2 separate regions of the Homo sapiens genome follow, and region 2 is linked to region 1. Evidence: fine-mapped expression QTL. A gene starts in region 1. The other region holds a variant in brackets. All regions are shown on one strand. Distances are from middle to middle.

The links. PIP is the estimated chance that this variant, and not a neighbour inherited with it, causes the effect.
Region 2: its variant is the best candidate, but not a certain one, in a credible set for the expression of NLK in tibial nerve (GTEx, PIP 0.59).

What each region holds. Positions count from the first base shown.
Region 1 is chr17:28,033,441-28,049,305 of GRCh38, forward strand. It overlaps NLK (nemo like kinase), which reads left to right and starts at 9,237. Exons shown (of 11, transcript NM_016231.5): 1 at 9,237-9,891. The coding sequence starts at 9,434. LOC105371709 (a long non-coding RNA gene) reads right to left here and starts at 8,280. Exons shown (of 3, transcript XR_934637.4): 1 at 8,157-8,280; 2 at 7,786-7,964; 3 at 700-1,021. LOC102724517 (a long non-coding RNA gene) reads left to right here and starts at 9,898. Exons shown (of 2, transcript XR_001752820.2): 1 at 9,898-13,391; 2 at 14,477-15,486. RefSeq lists enhancers at 175-1,374, 7,683-7,977 and silencers at 8,145-8,374, 8,395-8,624.
Region 2 is chr17:27,969,702-27,985,566 of GRCh38, forward strand. The region is part of intron 2 of LINC01992 (long intergenic non-protein coding RNA 1992); the gene reads right to left. Among named protein-coding and RNA genes, the nearest start is that of LINC01992, 14 kb to the right of the region's middle. RefSeq lists enhancers at 5,402-5,696, 6,924-7,053. The variant A/T (reference allele first, on the strand shown) is at 9,140.

The sequences.
Region 1 (15,865 bases):
AATGTCTAAATTCTTCAGGGGAGAGAGAGATCCAGAGGGACTTGTATCAGGAAAAATGCTTCATGAAAGTTCTGAGGCTACAGCCCAGTGCAGTGGCTCATGCCTGTAATCCTGGCACTTTAGGAGGCTGAGGCAGGCAGATTCTAATGAGCAACAAGGCAAAACCCCAGCTCTACAAAATACAAAAAAATTAGTCAGCTGTGGTGGCACATGCCTGTAGACCCAGCTACTCAGGAGGCTGAGGTGAGAGGATCACCTGAGCCCAGGGAGGTCGAGGTTCTCAAAAAAAAAAAAAAAGACAACAAAGAAGAAGATCTGAGGCTCCAAGAGCAAAGCCTTAAAAGTGAGTAGAACTTGGGTAGAAGAAGAGGTAGAAAGATAAGCCAGGCCCGAAGCATGGAGACAGAGAATGGACGTAGTGTGACCCAGAGGAATGTGTGTGCTAAAAGGTCGGAGGTGATCCTCTTGCCTTCTGCTAACAGTTTTGGGTAAGAAATGTTAAAAAAGTATCATGCACCCAGTGAGGGAGGCCCCTGGCTGCCAGGCTTGAAAGGGTAAGAATTCTCTGCCTGTCCTTCCTGGTACTCCATAGCATCACTTCTTTGCCCCTTCCCTCCAGCTGTGGGTTACAGTGGGAAGTGGGCCAGCCCCAGCTTTGTCACTCACGAGATGTGTGAGATTTGATAAGGTACCTTGACTTCCCGAGTCTGTTTCTTCATTTGCAAAATGGGACATATTGACGATTGATCACATGAGATAACAGGTGTTGAGCACCCAGCACTGTTGAATGTGAGTTGCTCCTTTTGTAGTCCTTTAATATTCCTGGGCCTGGCCCAAGTTCTGCAAAGTCTTTGCAGACAACTCATGGGGTGAGCCAGTTCTTGGAAGAAAGGGAAGATCACCTCCCACTTCCTGCACATTATATTCCTGCTTATGCATTCTGATGTCCTGCTTGCTTTTTTAGGCTCTAAGTGCTATCCTGCTGACTCACTTCCGACTTCTCGTTCTTCATGCTCAGCTCCTGAAAATGGAACAAAATGGAAAAGGCCGGAAATTGTACTGTCTGGTGATGTGTTTAAGGGGCCAGCCACTCCACGTGGATGGAATGCTGGGGACATGAACTGAGTGGTGCCCAAGATGATTTCTCCACTGGACACTTGGGACACTTTGCCTTCGATTGTAATACCTGTACTAATAATAACCATCCCACTTACTGCTAGCAAGCCCCAGGCTATGTGCTTTCCATGGATTGTCTCTTTGAATTATCACAACTGCATCTGTCAGGGAACCTCTCTATTTTACAGACAAGGAAATTTTTCACACTAAGATAGGTTAAGGAACTTGCCCAAGGTCACATAGCTGGTAAGGGACAGATTAAGGATTCAAACCCATGATCTAGATTTGGGCTGTCTAATATAGTAGCTACTAGCCACATGTGGCTAGTGAATTTTGTTTTCCTTTTTTTTTTTTTTTTTTTTTAGATAAGGTCTCACTCTGCTGCTCAGGCTAAAGTGCAGTGGCATGATCATGGCTCACTGCAGCCTCAACCTCCCTGGGTTCAGGTGATCCTTCCACTTCAGCCTCTTGAGTTGCAGGGACTACAGGCACATGCCACCATGCCTGGCTAATTTTTTTTTTTTTTTTTTGATAGAGATGAGGTTTCACTATGTTGCCCAGGCTGGTCTTGAACTTTGGGCTCAAGCGATCCTCCCACCTTGGCCTCCCAAATTGCTGGGATTACAGGTGTGAGCCATCACACCTGGCCTCTTTTAACTTTTTAGTGTGACTACTAGAACACAAAATTTCATATGTGGCTCTCACATTTCTCTAGGACAGCACTGATCTAAATCATGAACATTATTTTTTTTTATTATACTTTAAGTTTTAGGGTACATGTACACAATGTGCAGGTTAGTTACATATGTATACATGTGCCATGTTGGTGTGCTGCACCCAGTAACTCATCATTTAACATTAGGTATATCTCCAAATGCTATCCCTCCCCCCTCTCCCCACCCCACAACAGGCCCCTGTGTGTGATGTTCCCCTTCCTGCGTCCATGTGTTCTCATTGTTCAATTCCCACCTATGAGTGAGAACATGAGGTGTTTGGTTTTTTGTCCTTGTGATAGTTTGCTGAGAATGATGGTTTCCAGCTTCATCCATGTCCCTACAAAGGACATGAACTCATCATTTTTTACGGCTGCATAGTATTCCATGGTGTATATGTGCCACATTTTCTTAATCCAGTCTATCACTGTTGGACATCTGGGTTGGTTCCAAGTCTTTGCTATTGTGAATAGTGCCACAATAAACATATGTGTGCATGTGTCTTTATAGCAGCATGATTTATAATCCTTTGGGTATATACCGAGTAATAGGATTGCTGGGTCAAATGGTATTTCGAGTTCTAGATCCCTGAGGAATCGCCACACTGACTTCCACAATGGTTGAACTAGTTTACAGTCCCATCAACAGTGTAAAAGTGTTCCTATTTCCCCACAGCCTCTCCAGAACCTGTTGTTTCCTGACTTTTTAATGATCGCCATTCTAACTGGTGTGAGATGGTATCTCACTGTGGTTTTGATTTGCATTTCTCTGATGGCCAGTGATGATAAGCATTTTTTCATGTGTCTTTTGGCTACATAAATGTCTTCTTTTGAGAAGTGTCTGTTCATATCCTTTGCCCACTTTTTGATGGGGTTGTCTGTTTTTTTTCTTGTAAATTTGTTGGAGTTCATTGTAGAGTCTGGATATTAGCCTTTTGTCAGATGAGTAGATTGCAAAAATTTTCTCCCACTCTGTAGGTTACCTGTTCACGCTGATGGTAGTTTCTTTTGCTGTACAGAAGCTCTTTAGTTTATTTAGATCCCATTTGTCAATTTTGGCTTTTGTTGCCATTGCTTTTGGTGTTTTAGACATGAAGTCCAAAACCTCCTTAAGCTAATAGGCAACTTCAGCAAAGTCTCAGGATACAAAATCAGTGTGCAAAAATCACAAGCATTCTTATACACCAATAACAGACAAACAGAGAGCAAAATCATGAGTGAACTCCCATTCACAATTGCTTCAAAGAGAATAAAATACCTAGGAATCCAACTTACAAGCGACGTGAAGGACCTCTTCAAGGAGAACTACAAACCACTGCTCTATGAAATAAAAGAGGATACAAACAAATGGAAGAACATTCCATGCTCATGGGTAGGAAGAATCAATATCATGAAAATGGCCATACTGCCCAAGGTAATTTATAGATTCAATGCCACCCCCAACAAGCTACCAATGACTTTCTTCACAGAATTGGAAAAAACTATAAAGTTCATATGGAACCAAAAAAGAGCCTGCATTGCCAAGTCAATCCTAAGCCAAAAGAACAAAGCTGGAGGCATCACGCTACCTGACTTCAAACTATATTACAAGGCTACAGTAACCAAAACAGCATGGTATTGGTACCAAAACAGAGATATAGACCAGTGGAACAGAACAGAGCCCTCAGAAGTAATGCCGCATATCTACAACCATCTGATCTTTGACAAACCTGACAAAAACAAGCAATGGGGAAAGGATTCCCTATTTAATAAATGGTGCTGGGAAAACTGGCTAGCTATATGTAGAAAGCTGAAACTGGATCCTTCCTTACAGCTTATACAAAAATTAATTCAAGATGGATTAAAGACTTAAACATTAGACCTAAAACCATAAAAACCCTAGAAGAAAACCTAGGCAATACCATTCAGGACATAGGCATGGGCAAGGACTTCATGTCTAAAACCATGAACATTATTAAATGATCATCAGACCAATGATTTCCCAATGTTTTTGATAAATTTTTGAGCACAACTCCTCAATTGTGTATTCTTATTTATTCATAAATGTTATACATTTGTGCTACTCTGTAATATTATGTACATTATAAAACATTGACAAAATGGATATTTTTAAAAGATGAAATTTAAAAAATGAAATAGAAATTGTACTAATTTCTTCCAGGAGCCTAGTGGGTCACTTTGTGCACCCCCCACCATGGTGTGCACACACCATTTTGGAAATTCTTGCACCAGAGAGACTTAGAGCTCCTGGGGGCAGAGACTTTAATACAGATGATCCCTGACTTAGGATGGTTTGACTTATGATTTTTCTAGTTTACCATGATTTGAAAGTGATGCCCATTCAGTAGAAAGTGTACTTTGAGTCCCCTTTCAATCACTCTGCTTTTTTTTTTTTTTTTTTTTTTTGAGACAGAGTCTGGCTCAGTCGCCCAGGCTGAAGTGCAGTGACGTGATCTCGGCTCACTGCAAGCTCCGCGTCCTGGGTTCACGCCATTCTCCTGCCTCAGCCTCCCAGGCCGGCTAATGTTTTGAATTTTTAGTAGAGACGAGGTTTCACCACATTAGCCAGGATGGTCTCTATCTCCTGACCTCGTGATCTGCCTGCCTCAGCCTCCCAAAGTACTGGGATTACAGGTGTGAGCCACTGCACCCGGCCTCAACCATTCAGCCTTTCATTTTCACTACAGTATTCAATAAATTATGAGATATTCAACATTTTATTATAAAATAGACTGTGCTAGATGATCTTGCAGAACTGTAGGCTAATGTCAGTGTTCTGAGCACGTTAAGGTAGGTTAGGCTACGATGTTCAGTAGGTTAGGGTATTAAATGCATTTTCAACATACGATGGGCTTATCGGGACACAAACTCGGCCAGGCGCGGTAGCTCACGCCTGTAATCCCAGTACTTTGGGAGGTCGAGGCGGGCGGATCACAAGGTCAGGAAATCGAGACCATCCCGGCTAACATGGTGAAACCCCATCTCTACTAAAAATACAAAAAATTAGCTGGGCGTGGTGGCGGGCGCCTGTAGTCCCAGCTACTCAGGAGGCTGAGGCAGGAGAATGGCATGAACCTGGGAGGCGAAGCTTGCAGTGAGCCGAGATTGCGCCACTGCACTCCAGCCTGAGCGACAGAGCGAGACTCCGTCTCAAAAAGAAAAAAAGAAGGGACACAAACTCATCATGAGTCCAGAAGCATCTGTACATCTATCTCCTCTCCCCCACAGTTGAAGTTAGCACCATGCCTAGATATAATTGGTGCTTAATACATGTTTGTGGAAGGAATAAATAACTCTTAATGTACAATTGTTTTCTCGTGGATTAGATTAATTTATTTATTTCACATGTATCAAGCACTTTCTATGTATTATTATAGTACTATACTAAGCGCTGAAAAAGAAAGTTTACAAAGACTAAGCTCCTTTACTCTAGGCCTGTGCTTCTTAAGCTCTAGCGTTTGTAAGAATGACCTGGAGAGCTTGTTAAACAGATTCCTCCTCTCCTCCTCCAATTCTTATTCAGTAGGTCTGAGGTGAAACCAGATAATTTGCTGAACATCTAAGAAGCTTTTAGGAAACTACACTTTGGAGGAGAGTGCTGTGCATTGGAAAATTGGAAACATCTCAAATATTACATGAGGGTGAGTGTTGAAGAGAATTTATATTGCATTTTCACTATTTGCCAAGCACGTTTAAATACATCACCTCATTTAACCCTCATATAGACCTCATGAGTCATGTATTATTTCAGTTGAGGCAACTGAGATTGAGAAAGGTTAGTTAAGTTGCCTAAACTATAGAGTAAGTAAATGGCAGAGCTTGGGTTTGTACCCACTTCTGCACTCAGTAATTCAGGCAAATCTGTAGCAAGTGTCTTCTTTTTTTTCAGGCACTGTCCTAAGGAACTGGGCATACAACATTGAGTGAGACAGACAAGCTCTCTGTCCCCGGTCAAACTCAACAAGCACTTAAAATATCGATATGAGGGAGGCAGTGTCATGGAGATATACAACAGAAACGTATACTCTAGAACAGAGTTAGAACTTTCCAGGAAAAAAAGTAAAATTTACACGAAGACCTGAGGGATGAATTAGAGCAGTGAAGGATGAGCGGGAAATGTTTTGGGCTGAAGATATACATGAAGGCTTGAAAGCATTCAAGGAGCTGCAGGAAGTTCAGAATGTCTGAAGTGTGGAGTGGAAGGGAGAGATAAGACCCTTGAGGTAGGTAGGCAGGAACCAGATCATGCCAGGCTATTTAGGGGTACAGCCAGCCTTTTTTTTTTTTTGACAGGATCTCACTGTCACCCAGGCTGGAGTGCACTGGTGGGATCTCAGCTCACTACAGCATCTACCTCCCTGGCTCAAGCTATCCTCCCACCTCAGCCTCTTCAGTAGCTGGGTCTAGAGACATGTGTACCACTAATTTTTGTATTTTTTGTAGACACGGGGTTTTGCCACATTGCCCAGACTGATCTTCTGAACTCAAGGGATCCACGTACCTTGGCCTCACCAAGTGCTGGGATTACAGGTGTGAGCCACTGCCCCTGGTCTCAGATTTGTATTTTTAAAAATTTACTATGCCCCCAGAGGGGGATGGATCAAAGGAGAGCTAGCTTGCAGGCAGGGAAATGGTTAAAGATGTTAGTGGTGTAAATTTGGGTAAATGCTGTGTGACTGGGAAGTAGCAGAAGTGAGGGGGATTTAAAATTGTTTAAGACTTGATGATTCAGCCTGGGCAACATGGCAAAACCCCATCTCTACAAAAAAATACAAAAATTAGCCAGGTGTGGTGGCATGTGCCTGTAGTCCCACCTACTTGGGAGGCTGAGGTGGGAGGATCATCTGAGCCCAAGAGGTGGAGGCTGCAGTGGGCTGTAATCATGCCACTGCACTCCAGCCTGGGCAACAGAGACCATGTCTCAAAAAAAAAAAAAAAAAAAAGAAGACTTGATGACTGATAGATTGGAAGGGACAATGTGGACAGGCAAAGGAGGGATCGAAGATGACTTCCAAGTTTTTGAGTAAACTATACAGTTTCAGTAGGGATAAGGTTCTGTAAGCTTATTATTTCACATTTTAAAGGAAGGGTAAATTCAGATAAATGAAGTGATGGAAAGATGCTATTTTAGTAAGATTTCAATGACAGAAACTTACTTGATAGAAAATATGGGAGAGGCTGGAGGCGGTGGCTCACGCCTGTAATCTCAGCACTTTGGGAGGCCAAGGTGGGAGGTGGGAGGATCTCTTGAGCCTAGGAATTTGAGACCAACCTGGGCAACATATTAAGACCCTGTTTCTAAAAAATTAAAGAATCAGCCGGGCATGGTGATGCACATCTGTAATCCCAGCTACTCGGGAAGCTGAGGCGGGAAGATTGCTTGAGCCGGGAGTTGGAGGTTGCAGTGAGCTAGGACTGTGCCACTGCAGTCTAGCCTGGGTGACAGAATGTGACCCTGTTAAGAAAGAAAGATAGAGGAAAATTATTATTTTTGTGGTCAAGTTTACTTTTTTTGTTTTAATTTGCACCAACAGCTTTATCATTTGTCGACAGTGGAGTTCTGAATGCCAGAGATTCCTCCTCTTTTTGCCAAGATCAGGATTAACTATGGAGAGGACCGGCCGTAGACTACGAACTGTCAGTCTACTGAGTTTCTGTCAGTCTTTTGAGTTTCCTTTGTCTTCTTGTTGAGTGACCTTGGACCTTGAGTTTCTGAAGCTCAACATTCCCTTTTTCTTCCCCTATTTTTTACCCCACACTTTACATCTTAAGTGGGATATTGGACATCTCGGATCAGTGGACCAGTGATGATTTGGACTCCGCCTTCTTCGTCTAGGTCCCGCCCACTTTAAGACCCCACCCCTTCCCTAAGCCCCGCCCCTTGAAGAGGTTGTCTCGATATGACAGCAAATTCTCCACAATCCTGTCCTATAGGAGATCTAAAGGGTGGGACTTACATCAACCTTTTTTTTCCATTTGTTTTTTCAAGTGTCTATTTGGCCCAGGTTCCATCCCACTTCATTTTCAACCCAAGGATTGGTTACTCTGTTCTTTGTCTCTGGCTCATGATTGGTTCTTTCGTTCCGCCCCTCTCTTCCAGCTTTTGCAGGCGGGATTACCACGCAGCTTCCTGCTCCTGCCAAAAAAAAAAAAATAAATAATAAAAGAAGAAGAAGAAAAGAGGAGAGAGGCGAAAGAAAAATGTCACAAAGATCTTTGCTTTTTAATTGGCTTTAAGCCTTGTCGGTCAAGCCAAACTCTGCCTTTGATTGGTCTTTCTATCTGCCCATCCCGGATCGGGGGCGGGATTTCCCCGGAAGACCCACACCTTGTTGCCACTGGCCGAACAGTGCGCCTGTCTGAAGCTCCTGGCCCAGGATTGGAGGCGGTGGCGGACAGGTGGGCGTGGATTGGCTAGGGCAGCCGGTCCGTGCAAGGCGGGGGCGGGGCCTCGGCGGCTGGTTGCGCGTGTCCGACGCTGGCTCCGCTCTATCCGGCTTTGCTAGGGGAGGTGAGTCCGGCCGCGGCGGAACCGGCGGCTGAGGAGGCGGCGGCTGAGGAGAAGGCGGCCGCGGCGGCTGAGGAGAAAGCGGCCGCGGGGACGGAAGCCGGGTGGGGGGGAGGGGGGGAGACGGAGCAGCCTTGAGCCCTGCGGGGCCGTTGCGCGGGGGACCCACCCGCTCTCCCCCCCAACCCTCCTCAGCAGAAGCAGCCGGCGGCGGGGGCAGGAGTCAGCCCGCTTCCGACCGTACCCCGCCCGCCTCCCGGGGCTCCTGTTCTTTGGCCCCGGGACCCTAACCTTCTCCCGGGGCGGTTCCCTCCGTCTGGGCGTCCGAGCGCTGCCCACATCTTTCATTCCTCCCTGCACCTCCTTCCCTTCACTTTTGCCCCGGCTCTCTTTCTCCTCTCTGTCCTGCTGTCGCCTCCTCTCCTCACTCCAGCCTCCTTCCCTGGCTTATTCTGCCCAGGAAAGTTTGGAACCCCCGCCCCCCCTCCCCAATCAGGTCAACCTGACTAGGAGTAGGGGGAGATGTAGGAAGGCCTGAGAGTTCGGGGGGGGGGAAGCTGGAAGCTGGTTTCCCAGAAAATTTCCCCCCATCTTCTCCATTTAGGGTGGTGGGAATTTTTTTTAATCCTGTTTTTGAGGAGGTGGTAGGTGTTTAGAAAAGGATGTGGGAATGGAAGGGGTAGATGAGTCAACCCTCTTTCAAGATTCCAAGGGTGGTGTGTTACCTGATCCTTTTCGTGTGTGGAGTTCAGGGGGTCGGGAGGTTTGGCCTTTATTCCCACATTCAAAGTTGGAACCTCCCCCAAATTAAGAATGGAGTTTTAGTACCCACTTGTGGCAGGAATCCTGGGGGGAAGGGGTCCTTTTTTCCTTTTTCTTTTCTTTTTTCCCTTTTTTTTCCTTTTGGCAACCCACACCCTTCCACACACGCTCACCCCAAAATTAAACACCAAGATCCTCTAACTTGTTTGGATTGACTGATGAAGACATAAAGCTCTATGTTTTTTGAGGTGGAGTGAGTGGTTTTTCTTCATTTTTAAATGGCCAAATGACAGCTTGACCCAGTTTGCTTTCCAATCAAAGGGCATTTATTTTGAATGTCTCTTTGTGGCGCAAGAGCCAACGCAAAAATGATGGCGGCTTACAATGGCGGTACATCTGCAGCAGCAGCAGGTCACCACCACCACCATCACCACCACCTTCCACACCTCCCTCCTCCTCACCTGCACCACCACCACCACCCTCAACACCATCTTCATCCGGGGTCGGCTGCCGCTGTACACCCTGTACAGCAGCACACCTCTTCGGCAGCTGCGGCAGCCGCAGCAGCGGCTGCAGCTGCAGCCATGTTAAACCCTGGGCAACAACAGCCATATTTCCCATCACCGGCACCGGGGCAGGCTCCTGGACCAGCTGCAGCAGCCCCAGCTCAGGTACAGGCTGCCGCAGCTGCTACAGTTAAGGCGCACCATCATCAGCACTCGCATCATCCACAGCAGCAGCTGGATATTGAGCCGGATAGACCTATTGGATATGGAGCCTTTGGTGTTGTCTGGTGAGTATCCAAAGAAAAACACAACCTCTCATGGTTTCTTCTGTTGGTTGTCATTGGATGAGTCCATCTCTAATGGTTGTCTCCATGTTGACCAAGGTGCAGCAAGCTTCTCAACCCAACTGTAGGAAGCCACCCTCACTTATGTGGTAAAGAGGCCTAATGCATTGGCTGTCTAGGCTCATGGCAAGTTTTGGTGGAGCGCCTTCTCATGAGCAACACACATAAGTGTGCTGTCTACCAAACTTTTCTATTAGAACCTAAGCAAGCCACTGAACACAGGATCAGTAGATGAATGTATGCAATACTAATTCCTACGAAGACCTTGGTCATCTCGTGTGTTTGATTCAGTGGCCCTGTGGCATTAAGTGTTAGCACCTGATCCAGACTGAATTCCTTTATAATACTCTTGTCATTAGGATATACTTTGCATAACTACTTTCCTGTCCTTTCTGTCTTTTCACTTATTTTGTGATCTTGATCTCCAGAAGAAAGATAGGATTCATAGTTGAACCAGTTAAGATCATTGCTTGAGTGGTTTATTTTAAACCATAAAGCTACAGTTGAGAAGTATGTAGCTGTAGCCTTTTGATAAGAATGCATTAAATATAGCATCACACATGAGTACCACAAATGAGGTTAGTAGACTAGCTATGCAGTGGCCCACATTCAGTGTAATGTTTTAGTGTCATTTAGTGCCTCTTAAGTTGCTGTTATCTGTTGGTCAGTTGCTGTAGTAGGAAATAATACTTTTTTAACAAATGACCCTACCTTTGCTAGTGCTAGGATATTTGTAAAAGCCTAAGGGCTTCTTAAATATAACATTTTGGTCTATTTGGTCTAACCTTAGAAAGATTAGTAGTTTATAATAAAATATGTTTGTTCCTATCAAAACTAGAATGAACTGGGTTTTCTCCCAAGGACTAATGATTCCACTTTGGATAGATGAATTGATATTTTCAGTGCATTCAAAAATTGTTACTCCCGAGAAAAGCGCCCATTACCACAGGAAAATGAACTCTTTGGAACTAGCCCGGTAAATATCTCCTTTCGTCATTGTTTTTGAGGCTAAAATTGATGGGTGCATTGTTTATGCATTTTAACTGGCCATCTTATTTATATTTCAGATTTGATAATCTAGGCTGCTAAGTGATCTCATCCATTTTTTAAAAAAACTAGTAGAGTCCAGTGTTTTCTCAGCTAGTCCCCAAGGAAGTTTCTGCTGCAGCGTGGTCCTTTCTTCAAGGTGTGTGGGATTCAAGGTGGAAAAGAGTATAGCTGGTAATGGTGCCTTGGTCATTCTGCTCAGGGACCTGCCTGTTCCTGCCTTCCTCTCTTCCCTTCCACAGACTATCTCAGAGATTTAACTGTGAACTTATCCTTGCCTAACTCTTGAGGATTTCCAAGCTTTGGTTGGGGGATGGAACAGACAGGAAAACGGTTGTTCCTTGGTTTAAATTTTGTCATTGATTTACTAATAACTTTTAGCACTTGTTTGGATCTTCTTAGATCTGGATGCTTACTTTCTTTTTTAGTGCCTTACATACAATGCTAAAAACTAGGGATACTGAAAGGGAAATGGGTTGCAGCATTCTTGAATATATTCAAAAGGCATTTTTCACTTACATTTCTATCAAAAAGTGATGTGACTTGTAGCAGTTTTTATTTTATTTATTTATTTTTTTAAGGAAGGGGGCAATAAAGAACTGGAGTGCTGAAACATCTCACACAGCAAACGTTCTGCTAGTGGGTACTATGAATCTTTGATATCTGAAAGCCCACATATATTTGGTTTGAAGCCATTCTAGAGGTTTTTAATTGATTGACTGCTCTACCACCTATGGAGTTTGTCTCATGTACTTAAAGTACACCTCTGTGCACCATCTTACTTCAGGTTTGTCTTGTGTCACTGACTACATTCGTAAGCCCCTTGAGGGTAAGGATTGTCTACTGTAGTAATCCTTTTCTCCTCAGCGCCTAGCACAGTGCTTTGGCATCTTTGCTGCTTGGTTAATTGATCTAGTCAGGTCCTTCTTTGTTTTGGCTTAAACAACAGAAAATTATTTCTCACAGTTCTGGAGGCTAGAAATCCAATATCAAGGTACAGGTTTGGTTTCTTTTGAGGCCCCTCTGCTTGGCTTGTGGATGGCCGTCCTCCTGTGTTATCACGTGATTCGGGTCTTTGTTTTTTTAACCAAGTTTTTCTAGTTAACTGCATTGAGTGTTTTCATCAGCTGTTACAGGTGAAATACAATTTGGTATGAAAAAGGAAAGAGTTCCAGGTGTATGTTTTAGTATGCAAATGCTTTTCTATTTTTATATTTACATGTCAATGACTTGCTGTCTGAATTCCTTATTATATTTGAAATTTAACTGTTGTATGACCTAAGTAAGACTGTTTAGAGATTTGAAAACCAAACTACCGGGAATTGCACTAATATTCTGAAACCCAAGGTAAAGATATTAGTGAGGTTTTTTACTTTTTAACTGAAACAGAATGTATCTTTTTAATTTAGGAAGCACCTTATGAATTGGAAACAACTTTTTTCTAAAATGATTATAATGGAACATAAAAATGTTCTCCCAGTGATGCATCCTTTGATTGAAACCGCCATGTAACTAACTACCGGGGTATTATAAGATTCACTTAATTCAAACATATATTCATTTAATGCACTTTGCAAGTATTCTTCTGGAATAGCATATGACAAGAAACTGTATTTGCCCACATTTCCTTGGGGACATACACCCAGGGGTACTAACTGATGGCTAAAAAAGTGGCATGCAATTTTGAGAGAGATTGTTGTTTCTCCATGTAGACAAGGAGAGATATTTGTAGAAGTGATGCAGCATTTTACCAGATTTATCACTGAACAATTTAGTCTAGCTGACTTGATTTATCTTTCTGTTGAATTTAACTAGTGGAATAACTTATCAGTATTGGACAGTTGTGTAAAAGTAGTGAATTACTCATTAGCTTGCTGGTAAGGATGGTGCTGTGACAGTTCAATTAAGGTTTCATTAACAACTGTCTGCTGTATTTTATCTCAAAGTAAGAGTTCCAGTTTACCTGGTAATGTGATTGTGGGATAACCTGAGATAACATTTGTTGCCACTGATAGAATGTTGTTTATGGGTTATCAAGATATCATATACAATTTGACCTTCTTTTTGAGACATTACAGCCTCCAAACACCCACATGGACATTTTCATAATGCAAAAACAAAACACAAAGCAACCCACAAATAGTAACTTCAGTCATTTGGTGAGTAATATAAATCTACCTTTTTGTCTGCAGTTCACATTTGCCAGAGGAAAATGCTGTGGTTAAAGATGTAACAACTTTGGGACAAAGAGTTTCAGGGGCTCATAATTTTGAGAGATGGAGGAAGTTGACCGCATGAGAGTGGTTTGAGGATCGCTGTGCCTAGACCGTTTTTGACATTGGCAACTTAACATATCAGAGATGGAATTAATGGCACATATTGCCACCTTGGTAAAAGTGAGTCTGGGAAAAGACTTTTTTATAAAATTAGCATTTTGGTTTGTGACTTGCCTGATTAATTAAAAGATCAAAAATCCTGGGATTCACTTGCTCTGTTGCCTTTGTGTACTCCAAGTAATGTTGGAGGTCTTTGAATTTTATTATTCTAATAACTTCAGCAGGTTACTTTTATCTGTCTTTCAAAACTGTAGTGATAGTTACTAGCTCTGTGATCTCGATAAATTATTTGACTTCTCTGTTCCTCATCTATAAAATGGGGATAATAATAGTACTTATCTCAGGATTGATGTGAAGATTAAGTGAGGTAATTCTTGTAAACCAATGATTACACTGTCTAGCACACAGTAAGCATCAATAAATGTTAGTTGTTTTTATTGTAGTTATTGTTGGTAGAAAAATCAAGCTGTTGTGTTAATGTGCATGGAAGTGTCTTCATAGATTGTCAGATTTATCAGGTGAAATCAGCATGCAGACTATTTTTGGAGGCATGACTCTAAATAACGTAGCGTGTCCCCTCAGTTGTACTGTATGTCAGGGAGATTTGAAAATGGTTGAATTTAAAGCCAAGGGGAAAATACTCTGTGCTGTCCTGTCAACTAATTAAAAACAAATAAAAATAATACACATTTGTATGGACTTTGTAGGTGTTTTAGTCAGATCATCTGCACTGTTTTAGAAAGTATTATGGATTTATATACTGGGAAATTAATTTTTTCTTTTCAGAATGTAACAAATGAAAGACATCCTTATTGTCGAAGTAGAGATTCACTTTGCTTATGTTTGGATGAAAAAGTGTGAATTGCTAAAGATCCCAGTGAGGTGGGAGAAATATAGTGATTTAACAAAAAAATTACTCAGTATAAGCCCTTGTGCATGGTAGAGATTGTCTAGCTTGCTCATCTTGTGAACATGAGAGGCATCTTTTTTTCTTATGTTTTGTCTGGTCCTCTTACTCCACATAACAAACTAATTTGGAAAAATGCAGAATGCTTTTGGGATATGTTTGGGGAAAATCCTGGAGTAAGTTGCATCAGAAAGAGTAGTATACTAAAGGGTATTTTGTTATTAACTGTGTTTTACAGGTTGAGAATCTGTAGTACTGAGAAGTTTCTCCACTATCAGCCGAGATTAACAGCCACAGCTGGATTCTTTGGGGGCTCTGCTTTGTGAAAAGAGCTTTGAAGAAGCAGAGCCTGCACCATAAAAAGGAAACGGTTGCTCTTCTAGACATAACAAAGCATCCGTATGAAACTAGAAATGTGGAAATCTGTATTGTTAATTTTAACTACAAACGAACTTACTTTTGGAAATTACAGGTTCATGATCATAAAGTAGATAAAGAGTAGAGAATAAAAGTAACAATCTGATGATTCTGCACCCACTTCTTGGTGGTTGAAACTCCATAGCCTATAACGTTGCAAGTCATTTTGTACTTAGACTCCTGAAAAGATTATCCAAATTATGTTCAAAAAACCACAGCACAAAAAATAAACTTGTTTTATTCTTGGGGAGAAATTTCATGTTATACTGTCCAATATTAATTTAGAAAAAAAGACAGTTTTTTTTTTTAAGGCATTTCAGAAACATTGCCCTTTCAAGCAAGTTAGAACAATATCCCTCAACATTAAATACCATCTTTTTAGCCATCAGTACCACTGGGCATGTGTCATAAAAGAGAAATGGGGGCAGATATAGCTCCCTTTCATATGCTATACCAGAACAAAAATTTGTAAAATGCATAAGTGCATTAACTGAATATGTTTGAATTTAAATTCTGGGTTTTTACCTTCAAAGCACAGGCAGCTGTAGATACAAAAAGTCCTCTAATGGAGTACTGGAATGTTTCATTGTCTTCACAACTTGGAGTGTCAGAGTTTTCTCTGCCTTCTATATTGTAAAACTGAGTGACTATTCTTGGTCGTTTTTATTAGATTTATTGATGTCCAAGCAATACAAGAATTAACTGTTCATATACTGTATGTTTCCTTAACATGCTTATTTGGTTTCTTTGATGGAGATTGTCAAGGCCAAAGAAACTTTTTCATTTGTCATCCAACCAATAAATGGACAGAAGCTGTTAGAAGCTCTTTAATTATGCGTCTCTTTGGGTTTTAATTCTGAGTCCCTGTGCCTCTGTGCTACTCCAGTGAATTATTTGTTGATTGGGCCATCTAATACAGGTCAACAATAACTAAAATAGCTTGTCAGTGTGATCCTGATATTGCTTGGAAGTAACAGAGTGTCTGAGGCAACAGTTGTAACACTGTCAGTGAGCACATAACAAGTCATGATAGACATAGTCAGTAGTTGTAAGGTACCTAGTGCAGAAACAGAAAAAACTGGTACTCTGGCATTATGGAAAGATGACTTCTAAGTGAACTCTACTGAGATTGAACTTTAACTCTTAGTTGTAATGGTGTGAGTAGAGGGAGTATATATGGGGATGTCTGCCACTCATAATGATTGGTGCT
Region 2 (15,865 bases), 64 kb before region 1:
TGGAAAAGTTGTGGCCATTCTGAACTTTCAGGGGAAATACAAGAAATGGGAACACCAAGACAAAAGGCAGCCAAAATTATATCACAATCTGTCCAATTCTGAACCTATGATCTTATCATCTGCTCTGACCTCTCCTCGCCCCCAACTGCATCTCCTCCTGTCTCCTATTCAGTGAATGGTTCCACCATCTGCCACTGGCTCAAGTCACAAATATGGGGGTTATCTGGGACTTACCCATTTCCCTCATCACCACCCCCATGCCGTATTCAATCAGTCTCTTAAGCTCTGTCACCCTCTTTTCTCCAGCTTCACTGCCATCACTTTTGTTCAGACCACCGTCTTCTTTCCCCTGGTTGAACAAGAGCCTAAGTGTCTCCCTTGCTTTTAGTCTTGCTCCCCTCTGTCTATTCTCCACACTACGGTGCCACAATGACCTTTCTGAAAAACAAATAGAATCATGTCACTGCTGTACTTAAAACCCCTCAGAAACCACTTGTGTTCACCAGGATAAAATTCTAACCCCAACCTTGGTACCCAAGGTCTTTCATGTTGGCTCCCAGGCCACCTCCCCCAGCCTCTTTTCTCACCACTCTCCCCTTCTCTTACCAAATACTAAACTACTACTAGTTCTCAGGACACGCCATGCTCTTTCATGCCTCTAGTCCTTGCACATACTATTTCCACATTCTGGAACAATTTTTCATCTTCTTTCTCCTGGCTAAGTCCTACGCATTCTCCAAGAATCAGCTAATGCATATCTTCCTCTAGAAAACTTTCTGAAGAGGCAAAAAGCCCCTCCTGCCTCCTTACTGTCCCCAAGCTCTTGCATAAAAACATGCTGTTCCTTCTGTCTTATTCTTATCCTTCTTAAATGTGGCAGGAGGTGAAGCAGACTCCTGAGCAATTCCTAACCCATAGCACCTGAGGGACTATCTCCCTAGCCTCCCTTTCCTCTTTCCTAACAGAACCCCAATGTCTTCGGATATCCACCCTCACCCAAATAGCCCCATGCCTCAGGGAAAGCTGACCTTGCCACACTGATTGGGCTGGGGGAAGGGGAATATATATCTCATTTTTCTTCACAATGATTGGCTCAAGAATGTCATGTGACCCAATTCTGGCCAATGAGTTATGACATTTCTTGTCTCTTAAGAGAGAGTCACTGGAGGAGACCAGGTGTGGTGAGTAGATCATGCCGGTAATCTCAGCACTTTGGGAGGCCGAGGCAGGAGAATTGCTTGAGCCTAGGAGTTCAAGACCAGCCTGGGCAACAAGGCAAAACACCATCACAACAAAATTAAAAAATTAGCCAGGTGTGGTGACACACACCTCTGGTCCCAACTACTCGGAAGACTGAGGTAGGAGGATCGCTTGAGCCCAGGAGGTTGAGGCTGCAATGAGCCAAGATCCACATCACTGCACTCCAGCCACCTGGGTGACACAGTGAGACCCTGTCTCAAAAAAAAAAAAAAAAAAAGAAGGCCGGGTGTGGTGGCTCATGCCTATGATCCCAGCGCTTTGGGAGGCTGAGGTCAGGAGTTTGAGACCAGACTGACCAACCTGGAGAAAGCCCATTTCTACTAAAAATACAAAATTAGCTGGGCGTGGTCGTGCATGTCTGTAGTCCCAGCTACTTGGGAGGCTGAGGCAGGAGAATTGCTTGAACCCAGGAGGCGGAGGTTGCAGTGAGCTGAGATCGTGCCATTGCACTCCAGCCTGGGCAGCAAGAGCAAAACTCCTTCTCAAAAAAAAAAAAAAAAAAAAAAAAAAGAGAGAGTCACTGCAGGAGATGGCCTGTCTTCTTCCTCTACATCAAGAATTCTTAGCCTTTTTTTGGTGGGGGGGTGGTGCCAGGATCCCTTTTGTGGTAAGATGAATTCCGTGAACTGCTTCTTAGAATAATATTTTAAAATATATAAAATAAATTACATGTAAACAATTATAATTTAACCACGTATTAAAATATTAAAACAATATATTTGTGGTGTAATAATATATGTGATACTTTATTAACACATTCAATATCAATATTTAATGGCAGGTCTAATAACTACTACAATTTCAAAGTGGGATTGAGTATAAATGATATTTTATGATATATTTGTAATTGTAATGTTATATGAAAATACATATGATTTCTTTTGGTGGCAAAGCCACAGTACACTACTACCACTATAGATGTTGCCTGCATCCATAATTGAAGAAAATGCCACATTTCAGTTAGAGGTTAGTGGTGTAATTCTTTCTCCCACTCAGGTTCGTGGCTCTCCGGGTTTGTCTGTGGAGCCCAGGTAAGAGCTCCCTGCTCTGGACTTTGTACTCTCTGGCTGTGATGGCTGGAACCACTGCAGCCATCTTGCCAGCAACTGGAGGGTGGACCACTATGGCGTTGGCATACCGGAAAGATGAAAAGAACCTGGGTCCTTGATACCATTGCTGGGCCTCTAAACCAACCAGCCCCAAAGCCTATTGACTTCAGTTATGGAAAATAATAAAATGACTTATTGTTTAAGCCCATTTGACCCAGGATTTCTATGGATTCAGCTAATTTACAGAGAAGGAAGAAGGTTTAACTTTATGTCAGAGTCAGTGTCAAAAGACAGAACAAATGGAGCACCTACACCGAGCTCACAATCCAAGTAGAAAGCCCCTTTCCTGACGGAAAGCAATTTAAACTGCCTCTGCTATATTCACAGTGCAGGAGAATACCGATTGCACAAAGACAACGTATGCTCTGAGCCCTGGAGTCAGTGAGACTTCTGGGAGCACCTGTACCTTACCATCATCTTGCAAGCGCATTGGATGGAGGTGAACCCTTGCACAAGGACAGATTGATGAAAACTCTTTCCTAACCACTGTACTTTGAGCACACCTGGAAGCAGTAACAAGCATTCTGAACATGAAAGCTTACACTCTATTGCCCACAGCATGGGGCAAGAACAATGTGGGATACATCCAAAAGCAGTGCTGCTCAAACTATAGTCCTCAGAAAGGAACATCAAACCTGATGATGCGTCTGAAACAGGCACCAGAAACATCAGGAACAGATTGCTGGGCCCTATCCTCAGAGGTTCTGATTCAGCAGGTTGGCAGCAAGCCCTAAAATGTGCATTTCCAAAAAAACTTAGTGTTATGATGAGGTTTTTGGTCCAAGGATCACACTTTAAGAAGCACTGTCCTAGAGGATCCACAGAGGCCCAGAATGACTCCCTCAGCCACATGGCTAATCATATCACTTAAGGAATAGGATCTGGCTTTACAAATTTATTAGGAGTCTGGTGCAGAGGCTGGTGCCTATAATCCCAGCTACTCAAGAGTTCGAGATGAGCCTGGGCAACATAGAGAGACCCTGCCCCCCAGCTCTTAAAAAACAAAGTTCATTAGGTATTAGTAGGCTGAAAAATTGATCTGGTTATCTAGTTCTCTTTGCCAAGTTTGTTTTGAGCCAGGCACAACTCTGCTTGACAGTGGAGTGCTGGAGCTAGCTGATACCAGCTCGAAAGAGCTAATTGTTAAATTTTCAGGAATTTTGCAAGCTGGTTATTATACACAGCCATCATTACAAATTAATTATATACACTTTTAACAAAATAAATTACATTAAAAACAAAGATACTTAGTACTCCTCACTTCCTAATTATTTTACTATATTTTATTATCATCTCTGCTCTTAAGGTTATTTACATCTACTGTATGTATGTGATGAAAAGATTATATGATGGTGTATCTCCTCTTCCCCACTCTACATTCGATGACTCACCACTGGTAGGTTGGAATCAGCCACGGTGGAATTTACACCATGGAAATTGTTGATTGTATTGATTTCAGATAATGATGGAGAAAATGTTAATACTGCAGATTAAACTTAAAATCATGTTGTGTCTGTAACTGTTACACTGTGACTAGTACCAAAAAATCAAGGCAATATTCTTCCAGCATTCAAATACTACCACCTGATTCAGCAAAGAAGTCACTATGTCATTGACTAACAAATGAAATTCTGATACACGTTTGTTGTTTTTCTTTCATTTGACTCCTTAATGGAAATGAAACTATCAACTGACATTCCTGTTGGAATTATCCTCATTTGTTAATGATGTGAGTTCTTCTTTGGCAAATTGGATAGCATTGATTCATAGTCTGATTTTGTCAAATCATGGTTGAATTGAAACCATAGTTATGGCTGGGGAAACAAGATTTCAACAAAGGTCAACAAAAGCACTGTGAGAATCAGTTGGCTGTGTGAAATTTACAATAAAGCATTGTATAGTTTACTCTTCTTTGTAATTTGGGTGCTTCACATCTGTATTAGTCAGATCAGACGGCCATAACGAAATATTATACCATGGATTGGGTAGCTTAAACAAGAAAAAGTTATTTTCTCACAATTCTGGAGACCAGAAGTCCAAGATCAAGGTTTCAGCCAATTTGGTTTGTGGTGAGGGTTCTCTTCCCAGCTGGTAGATGGGCCGCTTTCTCTTTTGTCCTCAAGTAGCCTTTCCTCAGTGTGCATACGCTTGCACATGGGCAGAGAGACCCAGCTCTCTGGAGTCTCTCCTTATAAGGACACTAATCCTTTCAGATTAGGGCCTCACCCTTATAACCTTATTTAACCTTAATTACTTCCTTAAAGTCCTCATCTCTGAATATAGCCACATCGGGGGATAGGGCTTCAACATAAGAATTGGTTGAGGGGGCAGCAGATACAAACATTCAGTCAATAGCAACATCCTTTCTCTCTGTAAAATATCTAAAAATTTATAATAAACAAATGATACAAAAGTTATAATAAACATTTTTTTCTGGAGAGCCAGTTTTAAAATATTAATGATCACCATCTTTTAGTCATCTTTATTTTCTGGACAGGGTAGGTCCTAGCTGATTATTAGGGGGAGGATTCCATTGCCCAGAGTGAGCAAAACTGGATGAGCAACTCCCTGGCAGAATTCTGTCTTACCAGGCTGATTTTGTTCGAATGTGCTGCCTGTAACAATAGTATCTTTCCCACGCTTGTAATTCGTCCTCCTGCGAGTAGCTTGGTGTACTTCCCTAGGCAGAGAGTTGTCCTGAAAGTGGCCAAACTTGCTGACCCAGGGCCACACCAACCCTCCCAATTGCTCACAGTCTGTCCCTCTTTCCTTACAAGTTTACCAGGGCACGAAAAGCAGGCAACTTCCTACTGAATCTCTCCACCAGAACAGGACTGGGGAAGGGACCTCCCTTTCTCATCAGAGGTCCAAGGCAGCAGTACAGCATGCTAATACCCAGAGGCAGGCAGTGCTACAGTTGGGCAGTCTGGTCAGTGGTGACAGTGCAGGCCACACAAGGCCTTGAGTTGGAGGAGCAGAGGGTCTTTCCAGAGCAGTGGAGATGATGTAGGACTGGACTTATTCACAAACTCGATGACTCTCAGATATGCTGGAGAGGAGAGATCAAGTCCTGCAGTTGCTCAGGTAGGGCTATCCAGCAGCAACTTTCTGATCTAACTATTTATGAGATCTCATTTGCACCTCATTTGTCAAGCTTCACCTTCATTCTGCAGATGAGAAAGCTCATTTTAGGAGAGGAGATGACTCAGCCAAAGAGGTCACATGGTGAATCAGGGTCCAGTGGTGTGGATGTGTCTGTTTCATTCAGCCTCTGCTCTGGGCAAGCTTTCTCCTTTAAATGAGCAGAGGAAGCATCAGCTCCGTGCATAGAAACATGCAGAGCCAGCTGGCATGTCTGCGAATCTGCATCTGTGCTTCTCCCAGACCTTTCAAAGGTTCTGGGGATGAGAGTGCAGGGTGAAGGCACTCCAGAAGGACTATGCTGGTAACTTGCCCAATGGCCCACTGTCATCGCCTTGACTCATCACCCACCTGTTTCATTTGTCTCTGTCTGGGAGCTTAACTAGAGTCCAAGTTCCTATAGGCAGGGAACATGATATGCATGGGCTCCTGAGCCAGAACTGTGTTCAAATATTGATGCTGCCACTTACTAGCTATGCCACTGGGCAAGTCCATTAAATGGAAAAGGAAAGATGCAAAAATTCGTTGAGGGCCAGGATGTGGTAGCTCACACCTGTAATCACAGTGCTTTGCGAGGCCAAGGATTGGCCTCCCAGATTGAATTCCAGATTGCTGAGGCCAGGAGTTCAAGACAAGTCCTGCAATATAGCAAGACCTGTCTCTACAAAGAATAAACAAAAAATTAGCTGTGCATGGTGGCACGTGCCTGTAATCTCAGCTGCTTGGGAGGCTGAGGCAGGAGGATCCCTTGAGCCCAAGAGTTTGAGGTTACAGTGAGCCATGACTGCACCACTGCACTCCAGCCTGGGTGACAGAGCAAGACCCTGTCTCTAAAAAAAAATTTTGTAACATAATGAATGCCTTTTATAAGTTAGGATTTGTTTTACTTGTAAATGACTGAAACCCAACTCAAACAGGATTAAGCAAAAAAAAAAAAAAAACAGTTTATCGTTTCAGCAATCAAATGATCCTGGAATAGACCTTATAGGCTTCTGGTGAGGCTTGAGACCTTGTAGACTTCCAGGGGGCTGAGCAATGTCCTCAGGACCCATTTTTGCTCTCTCCATCTCTAGCCTCCACTTTTTCGGTGTTGGCTCCATTGTGGGCTTTCTACTCAGGGTAGAAAGGTGGCTGCCTAATCTCCAGTTGTGTATACATGTGCTGCATATACCAACTGTCAAGCTCCCATCCACTGGTAAGGAAAACCAGTCTCTTCCCCCAAAACACTCACACAAATCCTAGGCTTCACTTTGGACCAATCTAGGTCATGAGTTGCACCCCTGAACCAACGGCTGTGGCTAGGGGAATCCAGAGCACTGGTCAGCCACGCTTGAGTCACTTGCTCACCCCCTGGAGTGAAAATGAAGCCTGGTCCAGAGCTCACAAACTACAAATGCGGTATGGAGAGGTTTCACAAAGAAAAAGAAAGAAACTATTACTGAAATAAGGTACAATGGATTCTGGGTAGCCAAAAAGACAACAAATGTCTGCCACACCTACTATCTACCATGCTCCTGGTACTTTTTTTTTTCATTAAACTCTTGCAATGGTATAACTTAACCTTTCAGAATCACAGTTTCCCCTTTTTAAAATGAAGATAATGATACCTAATAAGACTAGCTACTACTTATCTGGTACTTTCTAGGCACTGGGCTAAATGCTTTATGTATTCCAACTCATGTAATTATTTATATCATAAGATTATTGTTGGAAATAAATTAAAATAGATGACATAAAATGTCCTAGGCATAATACCTGATACATAATAGGTGATAAATGTTTAAATGCATTTTATTTTATCAGTCACTCAAGCACAGTATTAAGCACCTAACAGATGCTTATTTTAAAAGATGAACAAATTAATCTATGTATGAAATTATTTCTGCATTTACTTATTTATACTCTACCTAGTTGCACAAAGGATTTGATATACAGGATATGCATTCGATAATATAGCACAATATAAACAGGTAAATAAAATCAGGACCAAGGAATGTGTGAATTAGAATAGAATAATAAGATAAGGGGAAAAATAAAATGCATTAATGGATGTCATGGATTTAGTTTTTGAATTTGAGGCTTCGAGTTTCCTGGCAACCAAAGAGAAAAGGGAAAACCCGTTGGCTGCAATACCACAGTTCAAGAATGCAAAATAAAATCATTCCTCCAGGAAGATAATTTAATGCATTGGCTTTTGAGATAAAGGAATTCTTGTTGGGCAGTTGGGGTAGTGGGGACAGGGACAGATACTGAAAAACTGTATTTGAGGTAAAAACAGTAGTTTTTTTTAGCACAGGAAGTAATTGGCAAAAAAGCACCTAATCTTTTGTGGGGCAAATGCCTGATGTACTTTTGATAACAGAATGAGGTGCCACTTTAGGCCTCTGATACAACAATCAAATCCCTTGAGGTGAAATGCCTCCCACAGCCTTGGGGGGGATTTCCCTCCAACAGACGCCATATTCAGAGGGGAGGCAGGAAGCTAGTCTCCAGAAAGAAGCATACCCTGCAGACCTGACTTCCATTCTCAAGAAGAGACCCAGGAGCTGTTCTCCCTGAGGCCTAAGGAGGAGAAACCAAGGGGGTTTTCACCTGGCAGCTCCCCTAGGCAGGATAACTCTTCTCAGCTCCAAGGTCCCTGCCTGCAGCCGAGAAAGAGTTAATTGCAGTGACCCAAATCTGCAGTCCCATTTTCAGCATGCTGAAAATTACTTTTTAATCCTGGCTTTTAGGGCTTGCCTGGGGAGCCATCTGCTGCACCCTCCCCCACCTCGGGCACACAGGATTACTCCCACCTGCCCGCCTAACTTGCTTTTGTGGGGCCTAATTCTGCTCCTGCCCTTCCAGATCATAGTAATTTGGAGGATGACAGTTTCATTTGTGGCGTAGGAAGAGAGCAAAGATTTTAAAACAACAAAAAGCAAGGTCTTCCAGCCCAGATTAAATAGAAAACAATTTGAAAGGTCAGAATCCACAGAGGTACAGGTCTGGGATAATCAGACCCCCAGCCTCAGCCATGCCATGCCATCTGTTGCAGGCATCTGGGGCTGGGCAATGTAGCACTTGGTTTTATTCTGGGTTCCAATACTTAGGGGTCATAGGGTTCCAAAAGTGGGTGATGCACCCATGACTCAGCTTGCTCCATCCAAGGAAATTGAGCAGAAGTCCCTAAACTCCCACTGGAACAAGACCTAGAGATTATGCCCTAGTCTCTCAGTCCTTCAGCACCTCTCTAGACCAGTTTAGGGAAGCCCCCTACTGTGTGCCTTGGTCTGCACCCTCAAGGACCTAACTGTGCAATGGAGGAGAGATGAGTCATAAAGAGTACCCAGTGGGATATATGCTACGATGGGGCCTTTGACCTGAGCCTTGAAGAATAAGCATTCACCAGATAGACAAGGTGAGACAGGACCTTCTAGAGAAAGGGAATTGCATGGACAGAAGCCAGAGATGGGATGGTGCTTCTGAGGAGGGTACAGGAAAAAAGGGTCTCACCTACATGGCTGGTGGAAGTTATCAGTTCCATGGGTACAACCTCTGAGAAGCCAATCTAGCAATAATCTTTGAAATTACAAACATACATATCCTTTCACCCAGAAATTCCGCTTCCAAGAATTCAACTAGCAGAT[A/T]TACTCCCACGTATGCAAAATGGCATGCTTACAAGTTATTCAATGCAGCATTGTTTGCAATAGCAAAAGGTTGAAAATGACCTACACGTCCACCAACAGGCTGGTCAAATGAATTCTAGGACATTCATACAAAGAATACTCTGCAACGGGAAAAAGAATAAAGTAGTTCTTTATGTTCTGGTAGGAAATCATCTCTAAGAGTGTTGTTCGTGATAAAAAGCAAGGGAAGTAACCAAATGCAATGTGTGGACCTTACTTGAATTTTGATTCAAACAAAACAGCATTTGTTGAGAGAGAAAAAAAATCAAGGAAATCTGAATGCTGACTAGGTAGCTTATGGTATTAAAGAATTATTGTTTTCTTTTACATGTGTAGAGGTTGTGTTTTTTCTCAGGTAATTTTCTTTTAGAAATATATGCTGAAGAATTAATAGATGAAATTATATGATGCCTGGGATTTGATTTAAAATAATCAGGGGGAGAGGGAGAGGAAGTGAAGATACAAAAAGATTGGCCGAGTGTGGATCATTGTTGAAGTGGGTTGATGGCTATATGGGGGGTTCACACTGTTTTTTCTACTTTTGTGTATGTGTGAAATTTTCCTGCAATAAAAGCTTCTTAGAAAGCAAGGTGCAGACTGGTGTATTTAATATGCTGCCACCAAAACTAAAAAGAGAAGACTGGCCGGGCACGTTGCCTCATGCCTGTAATCCAGCACTTTGGGAGGCTGAGGTGGGCGGATCACGAGGTCAGGAGTTCGAGACCAGCCTAGCCAATATGGTGAAACTCTGTCTCTACTAAAAATACAAACATTAGTCGGTCGTGGTGGTGTGCGCCTGTAGTCCCAGCTACCCAGGAGGCTGAGGCAGAAGAACCACTTGAACCTGGGAGGCAGAGTTTGCAATGAGCCAAGATCACGCCACTGCACCCCAGGCTGGGCAACAGAGTGAGACTCTGTCTCAAAAAAAAAAAAAAAAAAAGAAGAGCAGACCCTCACCAAACAAGTGTATATATATATATGTGTGTGTGTGTGTATATATATATATATATGTATATATATGTGTGTGTATATATATATGTGTGTATATATATGTGTATGTATATATGTATATATATGTGTATATATGTATATATATATGTATATATAGAGAGAGAGTGTGTGTGTGTATATATAATGTATATAATATATATATACATTACGTATATATGGTATATGTATGTATATAGATATATTGTGCATGCATGTGTGTGTGTATGTGTGCGTGTGTGTATGTTGAATGAATGAATGTCCTCCTGGGACCTATCAGGCTATCTTTAGGAATACAGTTAGTTTAAAAAATAAGTATTACATAATGTGAAAAATGTGGGAATACAAAGGAGGAAATGAATCATCTTTAAGGGGGAGAGGGGCTGGTTGAGGAATGTTGCTGGAGAGGAGATGACGTCTGAGCCGCATCCTGAAGGGTGTCAAGGAGCTTGGCAGGTGAGGAGTGTGAGTTAGGAGTCAAGCATTTTGTACTGAGGAAAAAACAAGAGCAAAGGTCAGAAAATTTAAAGAATAGAGTATGTTTAACTAAAGACACTGCTTTTGTATTATTATCAAATCATACTATTGTCTTATATGGAGAACTTTAGCCACGCCTCTTCAATTCAATTCAAAGGGATTTATACATCCACACATACAAAAACAGTAGGAACAATATACTTGCCTATTTGCTTATATACTTATAACAAATCTCTGGAAGAAAACATGCAGCTGCTAAAACTGTTTGCCTCCAGGAGGGTAGACTAGTGGCTGGGGGACAAGAGTAGGAAGGAGATTTTTTACTGTTTTATTTTTTGTATCTTTTGAATTTGGACCCAAGTAAATATATTATCTTAAACAAACAAACAAAAAAGGCCAGGTGCAATTGCTCATGCCTGTAATCCCAACACTTTGAGAGGCTGAGGCAGGCGGATCACTTGAGGCCAGGAGTTTGAGACCAGCCTGGCCAACATGGCAAAACCCCATCTCTACTAAAAATACAAAAATTAGCTGGGCATAGCAGCATGCACCTGTAATCCCAGGTACTTGGGAAACTGAGGCAGGAGAATCACTTGAACCAGGAGGTGGAGGTTGCAGTGAGCAGAGATCACATCACTGCACTCCTGCCTGGGCAACAGAGTGAGACTGTCTCAGAAGAAGAGGAAGGAGAAGGAGAAGGAGAAGGAGAAGAAGAGGAAGAGGAAGAAGAAGAAGAAGAAGAAGGAGAAGGAGAAGGAGAAGGAGAAGGAGAAGGAGGAGAAGGAGAAGGAGAAGAAGGAGGAGGAGGAGGAGGAGGAGGAGGAGGGGAGGAAGAGGAAGAGGAAGAGGAGGAGGAAATTAAACAGAGTGAGACTATCTCAATAGAATAAGAAGAGAAAGAAGAAGAAGAACAAATTAAGCAGAGTGAGACTGTCTCAATAGAACAAGAGGAAGAAGAAGAAGAGGAAGAAGAAGAAGAAGGAGGAGACAGAAGGAGGAGGAGGAGGAAACTAAAATTAAACAGAGCAAGACTATCTCAATAGAAGAGGAAGAAGAAGAAGAAGAAGCAGCTAAAATTAAAAAAAAAATAAGATTTGGAATTACAGAGAACAAGCCTGAGTAGCTTGGGTAAGTTATTTACCTTCTATGTCTATGAATTTCTTTTCCTATCCATGGAATGGGGACAATGACATTAGTATCACCTCATAGGAGTGCTGTGGTATTAAGTGAAATAATGTACTAGATAAATGTATTAAATAATGTATTTAAATACTAATGTACTACATTAAATAACATAATAAATTATTCACAGAAGGCACCTTTATAAACACCAGCTGACATTAATGCAAAGCCAGGACTCAATCCATGACTCTGATCCCACGTTCCAAGTTCTTCCCGCTCAAAAGGTAGTCCACCTGACTAGCCCTCAGGCCAAAGATAGCAAAAGGATCAGTGGGATCTCTCTGAAGCTTAGCAGCAATGGCCTTATGGGTTTTTATTGTCCATGGTCAGCTCTGCCAAGAAGCACACACAAACATTTCTCATCAGCTCATGGATATTTTCACTGGCCTTGTCTGCTCCATGAAACAACCTTTGGAGGTCAAATTGATGAAAGGTGTGGTCTTGCCTGTAAGACCAGGATCGAGTCTTTCCCTCTGAGACAAGTGGTTCTTCCCAGAGCTGTTACCAGGCATCTAGGTCCACTAGCAGAGAACCCTGGCCTAGAAGTCAGAAGGTTTGTGGCCCAGGCATCGGAGTCAAGAGATCTTAGACACTACTGGCAAGGCATATAGCCTAAGGTGTATACCTTAACCTCACTGGAGCTCAGTTTCCTCATCTGTAAAATGGGAATAAAAATGCCTGCCCCAGCTATCTCTTAGGGCTGATATGAATAATTAATGAAAGAGATATGCGAAATTAAATTTTCTAATTTAGACTCTAGATTATTGGGGTCTTCTTCAATCCTTTCCACCCAGGCAGAGTCTTTGGTTCTACCAATATGTAAGTTTTAAAATGTGATCAAAGGAAAGCCAGAGCTATCACCTTGAGGTTCCTGAATCTGCCCTCCTCTCCTCTATCAAAGAGATTATAGCACACACAGGCGGGTAGGGAGGATCCTAAGCACCATAAATACATGTAGGCAATATCCATGTCTTTCAAATGTTTGTCCTTGGTGAGAGCTGCAGCTGTCTTTTAATATGGCTAAATGAAGTAGGGGAAAATCAGAAAAATGCAAATGAGATCCTTATTTTAGGCAAATCAATCTCAGCAATGCTCATATCTGATCAAGCTTATCTTTAGGACGATCATTAGGATAATGGATTAATGTGAAAGTTTATTTTTACCCTGTCTGCTCTCACTCCTTGAAGACCCTTCAGACCTCATCTTGATTCTGCCAGACACCCCAGGAGGACGGGAACTCCTTACCAGTCAGTTTAGTCCCCAGCATTCATGTTGGGGCGGACTCTGGCAATCATAGGGTTCAGCTCACCACAAGGTCACCCAGCACCACACTGCCCCCACCTTTCATCATGTGACCTGAGATAGCTGCAGCTACCCTTGGACTCCAGGGGTTTTATTTAGGAAGTCCCAGAAAAAGATAAGAAAGATATGTGGGAATTTCTTTACAAGGAGGCCTTTGAGAGACCTGAAGTGTGATAAAGAGATTAAGAGAATAAGCCTTGAAGTCAGGCAGCCCTGGTTGAATTCTAGCTCTCTTACTTACTTGCTATGTGACCCTAACTTCCATTAGCCTTGGTTTCCTCATCTGCAGAATGGAGATCTTATTTCCATCTACTTAACTGGGGTGTTGTGAGATCTAAATGAGAATTGTGTCCATGCAGCACCTAGTGAAGTATCTGACATGGGGTAAAAATGAGAGCTACTGAGCACTTAATAAAGCACTGTCCCAAGTTCTTTCTATGTATTAATTTAATACCAGCAATAATCTTATAATATGGGTGTTATAGCCCCCTTCTTTAAAAAAAAAAAAAAAAAAGGAGGAGGAAAAGGAAGGCCTGAGAAATTGAGTGACATAGCCAAGGGCCAAGATTTGAACCCATGGCTCTAGAGCCCACCGCATCACTCCTACCCTACAGCTCTTGCCAACTTGCTGGCAAAAATGGAGAAGGGTCTTTTGCTCGCACGGAAGCTGGACTTGTAGTGAACCCCTCTAGAATTCCATGTAATTAGAAACAGAGGGCACCAGTTCAGGAAGAAAGAAGCAGGTAAAGGAGAAGGCACAGGGGCCCAGAGCTTTCACTAGGCAGGAAAGAGAGACAGGCAGCAGGATCCTGTCCACAAGCAGCCATCCCAGAGCCATTTTCTAGAAGGGACACCCCCTACGCAGAGCCCCTGACACTGCTGTCCTGAGCCTGAAGCCCGTCTAAGGCTTCTCTTCCCTGCATATTGAGAAGGGGGCTGGAGAAACATCCTGGGGCTCTGCAGAGATGAAAGTCACGGCACACCCTCAAAGCCTTTCTCATTTTAAGCATTAGATCACTTTGTATCAGAGCCACTTGGAGATGAGAAAGTGGGAGTCCGCCTTGGGGCAATGGTATCTGAGTCTGAGTCCAAAAATGTTTGCCTATAGATGTAAAGAAAAGCCCAGATTATTAGAAACAACATAGCAATTAAGACAAAAGATTAGGAAATTCAGGCCTGTTTCAAGTTCCAGCTCTAACACTTACTAGGTCCATAGCTTTGAGTGATCATCCTAATCTGGTGCCTCAGTTTTATCTTCTGTAAAATGGGGCTAATAATACCTACCTCATAGGATTTAGGGAATTAAATAAGAAATATATGTACAGAGCTGAGATAGGGTCTAGCATAGAGTAAGTGGTTAATGAGTAGTAAGTACTTATTATTATATGTGGTGGTTTTAAATTCCTAAAAGACAAAAAAAACATACATTCAGTTGACCATGTGTATGTGGAATGGGCAATGTGCGCATACTTACATATAAACATGCATTTATACGTATTTCCCCAGGCACATCCCTGAAAAACCAGTATATACTCAGACATTCCCTTGAATCAAAATCGAGTCTATTCCACTTCCTCCTCAGTCCAGTGAGGTGTTCAAGACATCAATTATTATCCCCATTTTAGACATCAGGACCCCAAGGGACTTAGCAGCATCTAAGTAGCCTGCTCAAAGATTCAAGGCTAATCCAATGTCCTCCGTACTCTTTTCTTAGCCTTCCTGACAATTTGTGTTCACTGCCCCCTCTAATTCTCTGTCCAAGCTAAAAGACCGTGAATTCCACACACACACCTCCCCCCCGCACCCCCCCCCCCCCCCGGCTGCCGGCAAATGCAGCCTGATTATCGGAAGGAGATGCCTGAGAAGAGTGAAAGGAAAAAAGAAAGAAGATAGAGGGAGATGGGGTAAAGGGACATGTGGCCTCGTTCTTCACTGTCCCAAATTCCCTTTTCAAGGGCATAAGCCTGCACCCACCTCTTCCAACCGCCCCCTCCATCCTTGTCTCTGCCCCTGTGTCCCTGTCTTGTCCTCCCAAGGGCTACAGCAATATTTCAAATGTTCCTCCCACAGCTGGGTGCCTGCGCTGGTTTCTGGGCTCCTGGCATCCTGAAGCCCCACCCTGATGCTGGCTCCACACGTGCCTGTGCACATTCAGGGCTGTGAAGGGTCAGTGGGCCACGTGAAATTCCAGGAAGGAACAAGGCTTCAGGGGTGCTGTCCTTGGCTGGTTCCTACAGCACTTCCTTCCTTGTACCCCGCAGAGCCTTTGGCATGTAGAGTCACGTGTTCATCTAAGTACCACTGATGGTTTTGATTTTCTACCTGAAGAGTGCACAGAAGCTGGCCTTGGACAATAAAAGCAAAGGCAAAGGTGCCCGGAAGGAAGGATCAGTGTGAGGAGGGTATGGAATGGTGCATGCAAAGTACCAGCACAGCGCCTGGCACAGTGTAGACTCCTCACACAGAGGGCTCTCCTCCCTGCCCCCAAGGAGATCTCAGAGGCCCCCCTCCTGCCAAAGCGGCATTTCAACTCCTCGCATACACTTGGGCTTCAGTCCATTACACAAGGAAATTTGGCTTCATTTATATAAAGGGGCTAATTACCACATGAGACATAATTACAAGACAGGAAATGGATTTATAGATGCCGTCAGTGGGAGGGGAAGTTGCAGCGGCTGCTTGGACTGCTCCGTGCTCCTAAGGGGCTAAAGCTGTCCCCAGCGGACAGGATTCTTGCCC